2 separate regions of the Homo sapiens genome follow, and region 1 is linked to region 2. Evidence: fine-mapped expression QTL. A gene starts in region 2. The other region holds a variant in brackets. All regions are shown on one strand. Distances are between the middles of the regions.

Region 1 (5,370 bases), 20 kb before region 2:
CTCTGCTCTCGCTGCTGGCTGAGCCCAGGCAAGGCCCCTGCCCTCTCTGGGCTTCCATTTCCCTCTCCTGCTCCAAACTTGCTAGCTTCCTTCCCTATCTCAACATCATAGGGACCCTTCGAGATGGGAACTACTAATAGGGGAAATCATATGGGAAACCAGGCTGGGCGCAGTGGCTCACACCTATAATCCCAGTACTTTGGGAGGCCGAGGTGGGAGGATCACCTGAGGTCAGGAGTTCCAGACCAGCCTGACCAACATGGTGAAACCCTGTGTCTACTAAAAATACAAAAATTAGCCGGGCGTGGTGGCAGGTGCCTGTAATCCCAGCTACTCAGGAGGCTGAGAGGTAGGGGAATCACATGAACCTGGGAGGTGGAGGTTGCAGTGAGCTGAGATCCTGCCACTGCACTCCAGCCTGGGTAACAGAGTGAGACTCCATCTCAAAAATAAAATAAAAAATGACCATATCCTTATAGGAACCATTATTTTGAACTCAGAATCTCAGAAAAACCAGGATTTGGGGCCTGGAACTTTCTTTGTCTTATTTTGTTTTGTTTTGGATTTTTTGGGGAGACAGAGTCTTGCTCTGTCACCCAGGCTGGAGTACAGTGGCGCGATCTAGGCTTACTGCAAGCTCCGCCTCCCGGGTTCACGCCATTCTCCTGCCTCAGCCTCCCGCCACCACGCCTGGCTAATTTTTTGTATTTTTAGTAGAGATGGGGTTTCACCGTGTTAGCCAGGATGGTCTCCATCTCCTGACCTCGTGATCTGCTCACCTCGGCCTCCCAAAGTGCTGGGATTACAGGCGTGAGCCACCGTGCCTGGCTGGGGCCCGGAACTTTCTAAGGCAGAGGCGGCAGAGACAAAGAGGTGGCTGGAGGTGGGGCAGTGCCGAGCCAAGTCTCAGGACATCCCTACTGCCGAGCCTCCCCTCCCACAAAGTAAACCGGCAGGTGGGCAGTGCAGGCGGGGCCCAGCTCGGGTTTCACTCCTTCCCCGCTCTCGGGGACAATAAAATGCTCCCTTTGCCCTGGAAATCCCACTTGTATAAAATCCAAAAGAAGAAATAAGCTCTTATGTTCAAACAGGTTTGTTCCAACCTCATTTATAATGGAAAAATATTAACTGAAAAATTCCTTAGTATCCGACAATGGGGGAGAAGTTAACAGTTTGACCGGAGCTGAGTGACATGCAAAAGGGTGTTTGTGGAGTGCAGGGAGCTCCTGCTGTGTGTGTGGGAGGGTGGAGAGGGCATGGGGAGAGGAGCAGGGACCCCAGAGTCAGACTGTCTAGGTTTAAATCCTGTCTGCTCCTTCCTAGCTGTGTGACCTTGAGTCATAACCCAAAGCCCTCTGTACCTCCATGTCCCCCTCCATAAACTGGCACTGGGCTGGGCATGGTGGCTTATGCCTGTAATCCCAGCATTTTGGGAGACCAAGGCAGGTGGATCACCTGAGGTCAGGAGTTAGAGACCAGCCTGGCCAACATGGTGAAACCCCGTCTCTACTAAAAATACAAAAATTAGCCAGGTGTAGTGGCAGGTGCCTGTAGTCCCAGCTACTCAGGAGGCTGAGGCAGGAGAATCGCTTGAACCCAGGAGGCAGAGGTTGCAGTGGGCCGAGATTGTGCCACTGTGCTCCAGCCTGGGTAATAGGTGACAGAGCGAGACTCCGTCTCAAAACAAAACAAAACAAAAAAAAGGAGAGAGAGACTTGGGGGATGTGTGTGCCCAGAGGAAAATCCATGTGAGGACCCAGCAAGAAGGTGGCCACCCGCAAGCCAAGCAGAGAGGCTTCAGGAGAAACCAACCCTGCCAGCACCTTGATTTTGGACTTCCAGCCCCAGAACTGTGAAAAAATAAACATCTGTTGTTTAAACCACCCAGTCTGTGATATTTTGTGATGGCTGGCCTAGCAAACTAATACACATTACTAACACACAATAAGAGAAGCGTTTAATAGGGCGCTTACCACGTAATTGCATTGTGTTCTGACATTACATTTACGATCTCATAACCATGAGGAGGGTCCTGTCCTCCCATTTCAGAGATGAAGGAAACTGAGGCTTGGCTAGTGACGGAGAGGGCTGTGACTGGAGCCAGGACTGTGTGACTCCAAGGCCCCACCAAAGCCTCCTCCTGGGATGGACCATGGACTTTCCTGCCTCTGTGCTGTGCATACGCTCTCCCTTCTGCCTGGAATACCCTTCCCACCACTTGCCTCTCAGGACGAGTCCCAGTCGATTCTTCAAAACTCTTCTTGGCCCGGCAAGGTGGCTCACACCTGTAATCCCAGCACTTTGGAAGGCCAAAGTGGGTGGATCACTTGAGGTTAGGAGTTTGAGACCGGCCTGGCCAACATGGTGAAACCCTGTCTCTACTAAAAATACAAAAATTAGCTGGGCCTTGTGGCAGGTGCCTGCAATCCCAGCTATTCAGGAGGCTGAGGCAGGAGAATTGCTTGAACCTGGGAGGTGGAGGTTGCAGTGAGCCAAGATCACACCACTGCACTCCAGCCTGTGCAACAGAGTTAGACTGTCTCAAAACAAAAACAAAAAACAACTTTTCTCAAGCATCACCTCCTTCCCATGCTTTACCCGACAATCTCCTTTTGCAGATGTGCTGCTTTTCAGGGCTTGCGGCCAGTCTGTACTCTGTCACCATGGTGGTAAATGTCATCTCTCCTGTAGCATTTAGACTTTAGATGTGTCCATGTGTTTGCTGTGAACTCCTGGAAGGCAGGGGCTGTGTCTTGCTCTAGTTCCTATCACCCAGCAGGCCCAGAGGGGCTCCGCACAGACGCTTGCTGGC[TGAGGTA/T]GCCAGTTTGGCCTGGAGAGAGTATTCCCGCCTCAGGAGTGGATCATGAGGAAATGGAATCTCCTGCCTCCTTGTGGGGTGGGGGTTGGGGGAGGTGGATAAAAGAGAGGCTCCACCTGGCACGGTGGCTCGTGCCCATAATCCCAGCACTTTGGGAGGCCGAGGTGGGTAGATCACCTGAGGTCAGGATTTTGAGACCAGCCTGGCCAACATGGTGAAACCCCATCTCTACTAAAAATACAAAAATTAGCTGGGCACCTGTAATCCCAGCTACTCGGGAGGCTGAGGCTGGACAATCGCTTGAATCCAGGAGGTGGAGCTTGCAGTGAGCCAAGATTGTGCCACTGCACTCCAGCCTGGGGGAAAAGAGCAAAATTCCATCTAAAAAAAAAAAAAAGCGGATCAAGGTCCCTACTCTGGGCATGAGAGGAGGGATCCTTTGACACTCCTGGGAGCAGCAGTGTGGCAGAGGAGGAGGAGCAGGGCATGGGGTCAGCCACCCTCAGTCCATTTCCCAGGGTGTGGCCTTAGGCACGGTCACTACCTCTCTGGGCTTCTGTCTCCACATGTATGAAATGGAATCAGTCCCTCCTTCCACAGGTGTTAGGTCGAAGAAGGCACCTCTGGTGGTATCGGCACAGAGGCTGGACACTGGATGACTTCTTTGCTGGGACACTGAGGTAGGGGGCAGACCAGAGACAGACAGCTACTTGCCTAAGCTCACCCAGCAAGCTGGCTGAAGGTGGAGAACTGGCTTGTCCTCCAGTTGGTAGTTAACAGCTGTCTAGCAGGAGTGTTCTTGCTCCCAGGAGACGCTCCGTTGGCTGCCACAGAGGTAAGCGTGAGAGTGCGCTCAGAAGTGGCTGGGAGGCATGGAGAACAGAGGAGCAGGTTCAGGGTGAATTCCAGTGGGCATTCTCCAAGGGTGAGGTCACTGCCTCCAACTCCCTAGGGCTGCCTGAGACACAGGCACCACCAAGCCAGCTCCAGAGCAGGAGGAGGTGGTGGCAGGGACCAGGGCCAGGTCACAGGGCTGAATGTAAGGCCCTCAGCCTGGTACAGCGACGGGCCCCTCCCATGGTGCTGGGGTCCTTACCTTGGGAAGCCCGGTGTTTCCTGTTTAAGATGTGGCTGGGGGTAGGGGAAAGGAGAAAGCCACACAGATAACACTTCTGGAACTTCCAATCGGTGCCAGCGTGCTTCCACCTGCTGAGCCGTGACCTCATTTGCAGGGACTGTCATGAGCCCCAACTTGGAGATGGTGCAACTGGGGCTCAAAATGGTGAAAACCTTGTCCCAAAAGGAAAGCAGTATAGCTAATGAGCAAGAACAAAGAGAATTTGAAATTAAAGACATTGGGGTTCATTCTTTTCCCCTTTTTTAAAATTTATTTTTGGGCCGGGCACGGTGGCTCACGCCTGTAATCCCAGCACTTTGGGACGCTGAGGTGGGCGGATCATTTGAGGTCAGGAGTTTGAGACCAGCCTGGCCAACATGGTGAAACCCTGTTTCTACTAAAAATACAAAAATTAACCAGGCATGGTGGCAAATGCCTGTAATCCCAGCTACTCGGGAGGCTGAGGCAGGAGAGCTGCTTGAACTCAGGAGGCGAAGGAGGTTGCAGTGGGCAGAGATCATGCCATTCTACTCCAGCCTGGGCAACAGAGCAAGATTCCATCTCAAAAACAATAAAATAAATAAATAAAATTTATTTTTTATATTTTTATTTTTTAGAACAAGATCTCACTCTGTCACCCAGGCTGGAGTGCAGTGGTGAGATCACAGCTCACTATAGCCTCAAACTCCTGGGCTCAAGTGATCCTCCCACCTCACCCTCCCAAGTAGCTGGGACTACAGGCGCACACCGCCATGCCAGGCTAATTTTTTTTTAAATTTTGTGTAAAGACAGGGTCTTGCTATGTTGCCCAGGTTGGTCCCGAACTCCTAGGCTCAAACGATCCTCTTGCCTTGGCCTCCCAAAGTGCTGGGATTACAGGCGTGAGCCATCGTGTCCGGCCACATCGGAGTTCAAATCTGAGCTCTGAACTCCATTCATGCCAAGTTACTTAAGCCCTCCAAGCCTCAGTTTCCTTGTCTGTAAAATGGCGGTAACAATGGTCCCTGCTGTTGGGGTTGCGGTGGAGACTCAGTGAGAGGATTCATGTAGCACACACTCAGTAAGTGCCAGCTGTCACTGCCAGCCTATTTCACCACCGTGAACACAGAGCCTCAGAATGGAAAAGCAGCCTGCCCAAGGTCGCACAACTTGCAGGTGGCACAGGCAGGATCTGAATCCAGATCAGATTCTTCCCGCCCTACTTCTATCACCGTGGAAGGGCCTGGGGGGGCCTGCAGCCAGGAGGTGGCTGGAAAGGGAGGTTCCTTGGAACAACCAGTGGCCCAGGCTTCCTGCAGAGCCGGGGACCCCAGCCCTGGCCAGGGTAAGGGTCACGCCTGCAGCTGGTGTTCCAGGCATCGGAGAGGAACTGCGGCTGCAGGCCTGGCAGCCTTACCGTCGCCAGCATCCTGCCCTCCATGGACACGGCCCCAAC
Region 2 (5,370 bases):
GGAGTGCAATGGCGCGATCTCGGCTCACTGCAACTTCCGCCTCCCGGGTTCAAGCAATTCTCCTGCCTCAGCCTCCTGAGTAGCAGGTGTGGTGGTGCACACCGCACCCAGCCAGGCCTGACGGTTTTAAATGCTGAAAAATAGGCCGGGCATAATGGCTCACACCTGTAATCCTAGCACTCTGGGAGGCCAAGGCGGGAGAGAATCACCTGTGGTCAGGAGTTTGAGAGACTAGCCTGGCCAATATGGTGAAACCCCGTCTCTACTAAAAATACAAAAAAATTATCTGGGTGGTAGTCCCAACTACTTGGGAGGCTGAGGCAGGAAAATTGTTTTAACTCGGGAGGTGGAGGTTGCAGTGAGCTGACTGAACCACTGCAGTCCAGCCTGGGTGACAGAATGAGACTCTGTCTCAAAAACAAAAAAGGAAAAAAAACCCTCAGGCCTGGCGCAGTGGTTCATGCCTGTAATCCTAGCACTTTGGGAGGCCAAGGTGGGAGGATTGCTTGAGATCAGGAGGTAGAGACTGCAGTGAGCCGTGATCGCACCACTGCACTCTACATTCTAGCCTGGGTGACAGAGTGAGACCTTGTCTCTAAAAGAAGAAAAACAAAAACAACTCATAACACTGAAAAACCCAGTGTGCAAGACCTTATCTCCTATTACAAGTGAAGAAAGGGAGCACAAAGATATCAAGTGGCCTGCCCAAGGCCACAGGGTGAGTCAGAGAAACAACTGGAAAGCCAGCGAAACAATCTGTCAGAGACCTGACCAGAAGGCCCTTCAATTTCTTTTTCTTTTTTTTTTTTTTTGAGATGGAGTTTCCCTCTGTCACCCAGGCTGGAGTGCAATGGCGCGATCTCAGCTCACTGCAACCTCCACCTCCCAGGTTCAAGCGATTCTCCTGCCTCAGCCTCTTGGGTAGCTGGGATTACAGGTGCCCGCCACCACGCCCGATTAATTTTTGTATTTTTGGTAGAGATGGGGTTTCACTATGTTGGCTGGGCAGGTCTCAAACTCCTGACCTCAGGTAATCCACCTGCCTCGGCCTCTGAAAGTGCTGGGATTACAGGTGTGAGCCACTGCGTCCGACCTGAAGGCCCCTGAATTTTTAACTTATGCTACACTGGTTTCTCCCAGGATGCCTCATTCAGAGGGCTTTGTCCAGCTTTTGTGTAGTTGGGTGTCTAGCCAGGCCCCAAAGATCTAGAAATGAAAAAGCCCAGGCTAAAATTCAGAAGGCCAGAGGGACTTAAATATCTCTAAAGCAAACTCAGATAGCACTGAAAGGAAACTCCTTCCTATGCCCTGTATGCTTGGGCACCACGGTAGTGACACCGATAACTTTTTTTTTTTTTTTTTGAGATGGAATTTCACTCTTTTTGCCCAGGCTGGAGTGTAATGGCGCGATCTTCAGCTCACTACAAACACTACCTCTTAGGTTCAAGTGATTCTCCTGCCTCAGCCTCCCGAGTAGCTGGGATTACAGGCACACACCACCACGCCTAGCTAATTTTGTATTTTTAATAGAGACAGGGTATCACCATGTTGGCCAGGCTGGTCTTGAACTCCTGACCTCAGGTGATCTGCCCGCCTTGGCCTCCCAAAGTGCTGGGATTACAGGCATGAGCCACCGCACCCGGCCGACACTGATAACTTTTTGCCAGCCCTTCTTGCGGTTTTCATGGCAGGATGTTAACATCAGCTTATCTGCAGGGCCAGGAACTGGTATACACCAAAAGCAAGGTGACAGTCATATTTTTCCAACTCTGGTCCATGCTAAAGATGACGCTGAGCTTTCTGGGGATTGAGAAACAGAACATGTGTTTCCCAGCACTAACAGTCAGCTTTGCAGACTGTTCACTTGTCTGTCTTCCACCAGACTGCATTCCCCTTGAGGGCAGGGACTGGGCCTGACCAGTCTGTATATTGAGTCTACATATGAGCAGCATAGAACATGGCCGTGGGACACAGCAGGCATTCAATAAATACTTGAACAAGTAGGACCCTAGTCTTCTGTGGACCCCCAATACTCACTGTGCGTGGAAATCCACAACCACTGGTGTCTCACTGTTGACCACTCGGTCTTGAAAGTCAGGTCCATCCTGGATATTAAAGGTTGTCAAGGAGATCCTCGTGGTGTATATTGTCCGGGCTGGGTTGGGTGTTACAGTCAGGCCACCAGGACTGCATTGTGGGGTCTGCAGGGCTCTGGAAGTGAGGGGTGGCCACTGACCCTGAGAGGGCTTCCTGGAGATGACAGAGGCCAGGAACCTCCTCAGAAGAAGTCGCTGAGCCATCTGTGAGGGAAAGAGGCAGAAGAACTGGGGCACACAAAAGGAAGTCGACACACTAGAAAAAGATTTGGGGAGTACTCAGGGCTCAGGAAGAGGCAGAGTTGGAAGCAAAATGCAAGGAAATCATATGTAAGATTTGTAGCGTGGAAGTGAGGAAGCAATGAGAATCAAAGGGAAGGAACAGCTAGGCAAACCAGAAGGACAGGAAAACTGGCTTCACAACCAAAAAGAAATCGGGATTTAGATTATAACGGAAGAATGGGAGGAAGAAACCAACAGATTTAATAATGTATGTAAGGACCAAGTACCTTACACACATTATTGGTCTTCCTACAGCAACTTCCAGGAAGTTGCTATTGTACTGCCCACACTGCGAGTAAGGGAAGGAATACGAGGCTCAAGTAAGTTAAGTGACATGCCCAAAGTAACCCCGCTATTAAATGACAGCCAACACTGGAACCCAGGGTCGTCTGAAAAGATGAAACGCAACAATTCAAGGAGGAACTAAGAGTGTGAGAGGAACCAAAAACGAAGAGACATGTACTGGAGGGAACCAATAAAGAAGGGACATGTGTGGAGGGAACTGGGAAAAATCGGACATCACCAGGGACCCTGGCTCTCCGGCGAGCTAGATCCCCCCGCCCGCCCGGCCGCCAGCCTGCGCAGGAACGCGCTCGCGGCATGCCTCAGCCGCGACACCACCTCGAGCCACCCCCACAGGGCTCCTACCTCCCTGCAATGCGAGCGGAGGGATGCACAGCCTAGCCCTCCCTGCCTGTCAAGGGCACGCCTGTCGTCACTTCCTCGGGGGGGGACGTACATAACGTCACTTCCGGGTACAGGCAGGCGGAAGAGCGTCCCTCTCCAATTTTTTTTTTTTTTTTTTTTTTTTTTGAGCCAGAGTCTCGCTCTGTTGCCAGGCTGGGGTGCAGTGGCGCGATCTCGGCTCACTGCAACCTCCGCCTTCCGGGTTCAAGCGATTCTCCTGCCTCAGCCTCCCGACTAGAGGCGCGCGCCACCACGCCCAGCTAATTTTTTTATTTTTAGTAGAGACGGGGTTTCACCACGTTGGCCAGGACGGTCTCGATCTTTTGACCTCGTGATCCGCCCGCCTCGGCTTCTCAGAGGGTTGTGATTACGGGCGTGAGCCACAGCGCCCATCTGTCCCTCTCCAATTTGAGGGGCGTCTGGGATTTTCCGCCAATGGGAATGGCGGGCTGAGGCACAGTTGAAGGGGCGGGGCCTCAGCTACGGACCGGAAGCAATGGGCAGGCCGTCGGGGAACGGATTGGAAGAGGCGGGCGGGCCCTGGTCTGGGCGAAGGCGGGGGCGGGGCGGGGCGGAAACGGAAGGGGTGGGCGGGCCCTAGAGGAGGGACCGGAAGAGGAGGTGATGGAGCAGGGGTAGCAATGGAGGGTACTTAAGGGAGAAAAGGCAGTTGAGAAGTCCCCGTGGTTTTGGATTTTGCAAACTCTTGTTGCTTTATTTTATTTACATATATTTATTTATTAATGACAGAGTCTCGCTCTGTCTCCCAGGCTACAGTGCAGTGGCGTGATCTCCGCTCACTGCAACATCCAAATCCCGGGTTCAAGTGATTTTCCTGCCTCAGCCTCCCAGGTAGCTGGGATTACAGGCGCGCGCCACCACGCCGGGCTGATTTTTGTATTTTTAGTAGAGACGGAGTTTCGCCATGTTGGCCAGGCTGGTCTGGAACTCCTGAGCTCAAGTGATCCGCCCGCTTCAGCCTCCCAAAGTGCTGGGATTACAGGCGTGAGCCACCTTGCCTGGCCTCCTGTTTATAACTGGCGCTGTCCACTTCCTACAGATGTTGACAGGTTCTGTTTCTCCATTTAATATGTAAAGCTAAGCTCCTCAAAGGCATGATGCCCTTTATATGTAAAAGAACTCAACCGGGAGTTTAGGGGCCATCCTTTAAGTGGCCCTCGTCTGTGTCCGCCTAAAGGAAAACAAATGAAAACTGAGGCGAGCCTAATTTAAGCAGGGAGTTTTTTTGGGTCAAGTTCGAAGACTGCAACTCGGAGCAGAGATTCAAGTTGTCCTGAATATACACTCGGATTAGCAGCAGCTGAAAGAGCGTTTTTAAAAGAACAGGCAGTTTCCAAATTGTTGATCAAAGTTTTTTTTTTTTTTTTTTTTTTTTTTGAGACAGAGTCTCGCTCTTGTTGCCCAGGCTGGAGTGCAGTGGCGCGATCTCGGCTCACTGCAACCTCTGCCTCCTGGGTTCAAGGGATTCTTCTCCCTCTGCCTCCCCAGTAGCTGGGACTACAGGCGTGCCTCACCACGCCTAGCTAATTTTTATATTTTTAGTAGAGACGGAGTTTCACCATGTTGGCTAGGATGGTCTCGATCTATTGACCTCATGATCTGCCCACCTGGGCCTCCCAAAGTGCTGGAATTACAGGCGTGAGCCACTGCACCCAGCCTTTTTTTTTTTTTTTTTGAGACGGAGTCTTGCTCTGTAGCTAGGCTGGAGTGCAGTGGCATGATCTTGGCTCACCGCAACCTCCACCTCCAGGGTTCAAGGGATTCTCCTGCCTCAGCCCCCCAAGTACTTGGGATTACAGGCGAGCACCACCACACCTGGCTAATTTTTTATATTTTTGGTACAGAAATTTTATATTTCACCATGTTGGCCAGGCTGGTCTCGAACTCCTGACCTTAAGTTATCGCTCGCCTCGGCTTCCCAAAGTGCTGGGATAACAGGCGTGAGCCACCGCGCCTGGCCGCCCTGCCCATTTTTGTATCGGTTTTCTGTGTCTCTAGCACTTTCTTTTCCACAGCCACCTATCAATCCTATTCAGCACTTCCACAGTATTTTCTAGAGAGCCAATTTTCCTGCCTAATTCACATTCTGAATTTCACAGGCGGACCAGTCCTGTTTGTCCTTATGCCATAGTCACTTCACCCTGATCGGCCTCAGGCTTCTCATCTGAGCAATGGGAAGAATGCCTTTCTCATAGCTGGGCTGAGGGTTGCAGTAGAGACAGAATCCACATCATTGCTGCCTGATGACTCCTGCAGGGAAAGCCTGAGAGACACAGAGAAGGCT

Evidence for each region. PIP is the estimated chance that this variant, and not a neighbour inherited with it, causes the effect.
Region 1: its variant is the best candidate, but not a certain one, in a credible set for the expression of TXN2 in blood mononuclear cells (TOPMed, PIP 0.87).

What each region holds. Positions count from the first base shown.
Region 1 is chr22:36,458,587-36,463,956 of GRCh38, forward strand. No RefSeq gene overlaps it. Among named protein-coding and RNA genes, the nearest start is that of TXN2, 20 kb to the right of the region's middle. RefSeq lists an enhancer at 2,864-3,396. The variant TGAGGTA/T (reference allele first, on the strand shown) is at 2,813.
Region 2 is chr22:36,478,538-36,483,907 of GRCh38, forward strand. It overlaps TXN2 (thioredoxin 2), which reads right to left and starts at 3,103. Exons shown (of 4, transcript NM_012473.4): 1 at 3,027-3,103; 2 at 2,038-2,300. The coding sequence starts at 2,300. RefSeq lists an enhancer at 3,533-4,479.